Regions from separate parts of the Homo sapiens genome. Here region 2 is linked to region 1. The links come from fine-mapping of genetic effects on gene expression. Tissue or cell type: whole blood. Region 1 holds a variant in brackets; the other region holds the start of a gene. All regions are shown on one strand. Distances are between the middles of the regions.

Region 1 (2,753 bases):
TGGTGCAATCTTGGATCACTGCAATCTCTGCCTCCCAGGCTCAAGTGATTCTCCTGCCTCAGCCTCCCGAGTAGCTGGGACTACAGGCGTGAACCACCATGCTTGGCTAACTAAAACAAGGTTTTTTGGTAGAGACGAGGTCTCACTATATCGCCCAGGCTGGTCTCGAACTCCTGGCTTCAAGTGATCCCCTCGCCTTGGCCTCGTAAAGTGCTAGGATTACAGGCGTGGACCACCGTGCCTGGCCCATAGCGAGCTTTTTAGGTGAACGTCCATGCAGTCATCTCAGAGACACGCCTCCCTATGGGTGACTCCTACCCCCAGCCTGGCGGAGCTGGGAGCTTGCAGCCTGCTCCCTCCAAGCTCACACACACTCTCAACGCTGTCCTGCCACACAGAGCTACCTCTGAGCTCTTGGTCCTATGCACCTGGTTGTCCCATGAGATGTGACTCAGCAGCCCTTCCCTTTCTAGATGATCTGCAGATTTTCTGGTGTTGTCGTCTTTTGTCCTGGGGCCAGTTTGGAGTGGCTGTCTCTACTCATCCTGGCCCCGTTGGCTGGAACGGCCTGCATGCACAGTGGAGGTGCCACACGCTCACTGTGGCATGCCTGCGTGTCTGTGTTCGTGGGAGGTATGGCCATACCTGTGTGAGCCTCTTCAGGACGGGCACACCTGCCTGGTGTCCTCCCTGCCCAAAGGCAAAGAGCTGCAACATGCGGGAGGCTGGACGCTGAAGGCCACTTTTGGAGTCTACTAACCAGGTCCAGCTGGGCACCTGTATCCATTTCATGCCAGTCTATCTCCCTCCTGGGCAGGCCCAGGGCAACTGGCAGCTCACCAACCTGAGCTTCCTCCAGGCCTGCTCCTTGGAGATGTCTCTGCCATCTGTTCTGACGCCTAGATTCAGGGTTGCCTTGATTGCCCAGGAGACCTGGGCACTGCTTGAGGCTGGAGACATGTGCTTTTTGGACCCTGGCTCCAGCCAGAAGCACTGGTGGCCCCCGGGGTCCTATGTGGTGTCCTGTGATCCCATGACAGGGGAACGTACAGGGATGGGGGTCAAATTGGAGAAGGTGGGGCAGTGCCCGCGAAGCAGTCACAGCCCCATTCTGTTGCCACGTCTCCTCCTGACTCCTCCCTGTCCTCCTACCCTCGCTTCAGGATGGCCCTGCCTTCCCTCCCCTCCTGCGCCTCTTCTGTTGTCTTGCAGCCTCTGTCGCCCTGCTCTTCCTGTTTCATTGGGTGGTGCTCTCTTTTCCCTGTTGTGACCTCCCTGGACTCTGTTTTATTTGCAGGTTTTTGCCACCAGGCAAGCTCTGTTCTCTGACTCATTCTTTTTTTGTTTTTTTTTTTTGAGACAGGGTCTCACTCTGTTGTCCAGGGTGACAGAGTGCAATGGCACCATCATAGCTCACTACAGCCTCAAACTCCTGCTGACCCATTCTTGTATCTGGAACAAGGGGCTGGAGGCACAGAGGTTCTGTGCCCAGGCTGGTGGGGCTGGTGGCTTCTTGGGCATCTCCTGTTAGGGGCCCAGGAGCTTCTATGTCTAAGGGAGATGTGGGGCTTTCTTCTCCCCTCAAGGACCTGATCCAGGCACACCTGTGCTGCATCCTCGTCACCTCCTACCCAGTGCCTGCTGCCACGTGGATGGCCCCCAGGTTAG[G/A]TATTTTGTGACTTCCAGGTCCCTTGTCGCGGCTAATAGGACATGTTCTTTTGTTTCAGGATAGATCACTGCGACCAGAGGAAATTGAAGGTAAAACTTGGCCCCTTGGGGGAAAGGACTGCCTAGCCCTCTAGGAAGGTGTGGGAAGGGAGGTTGATGGGAAGAGAGGCCCCTGGAAATGGGGCCTGGTGCAACGCGGGGTATCTTCTGTGAAACCAGCTGCTGAAGGTGTGCACAGGAGGCAAGAGAAATGCCCCAGCATCCTGGGAAGCTCCTGGGCCTCTCTTTCCATGCCGGTGGGCCTTTGGGCTGCCTTTGCCCACAGAGGCTCTGCGGGTCCTACCCCTGACCACATCCACCTTTGCTCACTTCCCCAGAGCTCCGAGAGGCCTTCAGAGAATTCGACAAGGACAAGGATGGCTACATCAACTGCCGGGATCTGGGCAACTGCATGCGCACCATGGGCTACATGCCCACCGAGATGGAGCTCATCGAACTGTCCCAGCAGATCAACATGAACCGTGAGTCCCTCTACCAGGCATCTGCGTCCCTTCGGTCCTCACCCTTGCCGTCCTCTGCAGTCAGACAGGACTGGCTTCAAATTCTGCATCCACCTCTTACCAGCTCTGTGATCTGGGGCCAACCACTTACCCTCTCTGAGCCTCAGTTTCCTCACCTGTAAAATGAGGGCCGAATTGGAGGAGTGGAGCCCAGAAAGTAGATTAGGGAATATCTGTAAAACAGCCCAATAACTGGCTCACAGGAAGAACTGAACAGAGGGCTCTTGTTATTATTAAGTTTGTCTCTATCTGATGAGCAGGTCAAGGAGGGGTTGTCCATTCTGTCAGTTGTCTAGTTGGAGACAGGGAATGGGTATGTCGGGGATGACCTAGCCCTTTCCTCCTTTTCCAGTGGGTGGCCATGTAGATTTTGATGACTTCGTGGAGCTAATGGGGCCTAAACTCCTGGCAGAGACAGCAGATATGATTGGTGTAAAGGAACTGCGAGATGCTTTCCGAGAGGTAACGGACAGAGGCAGGCAGGCATGGGGCGGCTATTGGAATCCTATCTGCAGTATAAATACT
Region 2 (2,515 bases), 28 kb after region 1:
TCTGACAACCCTGGTAGCAGGGACTTGATACATTTTTTTCCTTTTAGGGAGAATTTCTAAATCGACCAGTATTTATGGAAAATGCATAAGCGTTTTTTTGTTTTTTTTGTTTTTGCCTTGACTCTGCCCTACACTTGCGGTGCGACCCTTTGGCAAAATTCAGTCCCTTTCTATGCCTCAGTTTCCCCATCGGAAAAATGGGAGTTTGAACAGCGACCGAAGCGCAGGGATCGCCAGTGTGGGAGAGCGCCAGGTGAACTGTGAAGGAGCAGGGAGGGAGTTCGGGCCGTGCCCGTGCGGGACAACCCCGGTATCCACTCTGGGCACCGCCGGCGGCGACTCCCGCCAGCGCCTAGGGTGCCTCGGTCCCGCCCCTACGCAGCGGAGGCCGGCCAGAGGCCGTCGCCATGGAGACGCGAGCAGCCTGGCACCCACTCGCTCTCAAAGCCACGCGTTTCCGCTGCGTTGGAGCCTTCTCATTGGACGGCCGTCTGGACGCTACCACCCGCCCCGAGCCCGCTAAGGGGAGGGGGCGGGGCCTTATTCTCATGGGATTCGTTCCCTGGAGACCTGTGTCCGCGGCCTCTCTGGGAAAGCATGGGTCCTCTCCCTCACGCGGGGAAAAGGACTGCGTCTCTTAGGTCTGGAGAGTGTCCATTGCTTCTCCTACTAGAATTTATGCTCATGCTGCTCCCTGAGAAAAGAAGAGGGGGCGGGAAAGTCGGCCACGCCCCCTCCAGAGCCTATTTGGTCTCAGGAGCTAGAGCACCGGAAGTGCTGGCGACATGTCAGTGCGCCCTACCCTAAACCTTCCCCCCCCAGGCCACCTTTCCCATTCAGCTGTGGGATTCCGGGGCCGCCTGGGCGCTGCACCCGCCACTTCCGCATCGAACCGCCGCTTCAACCGAACTCACTCCCTCTGCGCGCGCTCCATCTGGTGCCCGACTGCTGGGCCGGCGCCTGGGAGAAGCCACGCCCTTTCCCGCGCCTGACAGCCAATGAGCGGGCGCCTCCCGGCGGGGTGGTGGGTAATTAATGAGGGCCGGGCGCTGATTGGCTGCAGCGTCGTGGCCGGGGGCAGGGCGGCGGGGTAGGTTGTTCCTGAGGTGGGAGGCGGTACCCGTGGCTGAGAAGAAGGAGGCCTGAGAGCGACATGTCCCCGGCGGCTCAGGCGGAGCGGCCCGTGGCGCTGTTTTTCTGAGTCCGGGGTGGCCTGGCAGCCGGCCGAGGACGAGGGTCGGCGGGGGCTGCCCCCGTGGTGGTGGCCGCCATGCTGGGAGCCTGGGCGGTTGAGGGAACCGCTGTGGCGCTCCTGCGACTGCTGCTGCTGCTGCTGCCGCCGGCGATCCGGGGACCCGGGCTCGGCGTGGCCGGCGTGGCCGGCGCGGCGGGGGCCGGGCTGCCCGAGAGCGTCATTTGGGCGGTCAACGCGGGTGGAGAGGCGCATGTGGACGTGCACGGGATCCACTTCCGCAAGGACCCTTTGGAAGGCCGGGTGGGCCGAGGTGAGAGTCCCCCTGCCGAGCCGCGGGATCCAGGGCCTGCTGTGCTGGGCGCAGCCGGCCGGGGGCTGCGGGCCCCGAGCCCCTTTCGACCCTGGGGCCGCGTCTCTGGAGCGAAGTTTCTCTCTGCAGCTTCTTCGGGGGCCCGCTCTGAGCTCAGGGCCTGGCACTGGCTCCAAGGTACCTAGAGTCATACAGGCAGAGAGTTGGCCAGAAGTTAGTTATATTTGGATTTCTCATCCTGCATTTTCTCAACCCCTCACTCCCATCCAAGCTGGGAGAGAAATGACGAAGGCGGCCTTTTGCTACCTCCAGGCCTCGCGGGTTGTAGGTCATGGGTGCCCCTGCTTCTCCTGTCGAGACAGTTCTTGGGAGATTCTCGTCGACCCAGGAATCGGCCGCTTTCCTTGCCCCTTCTGCAGGAGCGGGGCTTGATTCTTAGCCAGAATAGGAAGGAATCTTCGAAGAGAATGGGCCAGGAAAGTTTGATTGTAGCCTCCTCCCCCGCCCTCTTTTCGAGCGAAGAATATGTGTGCTTAAAAGTAGAATCGGCAGGCCGCCCCCAGAGGGTGGTTCTATCGAAGCCATCCTGCACGTGAGGCTGGTGGCTGTGTGTGAACTGGGTCAACCAGTGTAAGAATCCGAATGGTCTATCAGAGAATGCTTACAACCTCCCCTAGGTGATCCTGAGAGTTCTAATTCCAGCTTAGGGGGAAAATGATTGTGACTTAACTTGCTGGGCAACAGTGGTTTTTAACGGAGCTGCTCCCTTCCCAAAGTTAGTGTGTGTCAGAATTGCCAGGGCAGCTGGTTAAAAATGCAGATTCCTAGTCCCCACTCGAAATTGATTATAGTAGATTGAGCTTTTTTGCTGGGATCCAGGTTTCTGCACCAGGGGCTTGTGATGTAGGTTGCCCCGAGACCACCGTTTTGGAAGATCAGCTTTATAATCTTTGTTTCTTCTGTTGGAGGGATTGGAAAACAGGTTTCAGAAGGAAGTTCTTTGCTAGGAG

The links. PIP is the estimated chance that this variant, and not a neighbour inherited with it, causes the effect.
Region 2: it holds the start of MLEC, and the variant in region 1 is fine-mapped to the expression of MLEC in whole blood (INTERVAL, PIP above 0.99).

Annotation. Positions count from the first base shown.
Region 1 is chr12:120,658,151-120,660,903 of GRCh38, forward strand. CABP1 (calcium binding protein 1) reads left to right here. Exons shown (of 6, transcript NM_001033677.2): 2 at 1,728-1,758; 3 at 2,046-2,189; 4 at 2,581-2,690. Among named protein-coding and RNA genes, the nearest start is that of CABP1, 19 kb to the left of the region's middle. RefSeq lists enhancers at 202-703, 704-1,203. The variant G/A (reference allele first, on the strand shown) is at 1,669.
Region 2 is chr12:120,686,027-120,688,541 of GRCh38, forward strand. It overlaps MLEC (malectin), which reads left to right and starts at 1,123. Exons shown (of 5, transcript NM_014730.4): 1 at 1,123-1,505. The coding sequence starts at 1,271. It overlaps LOC105370029 (a long non-coding RNA gene), which reads right to left and starts at 1,123. Exons shown (of 3, transcript XR_945449.3): 1 at 828-1,123. RefSeq lists silencers at 242-341, 1,182-1,481 and enhancers at 502-611, 702-831, 926-1,427.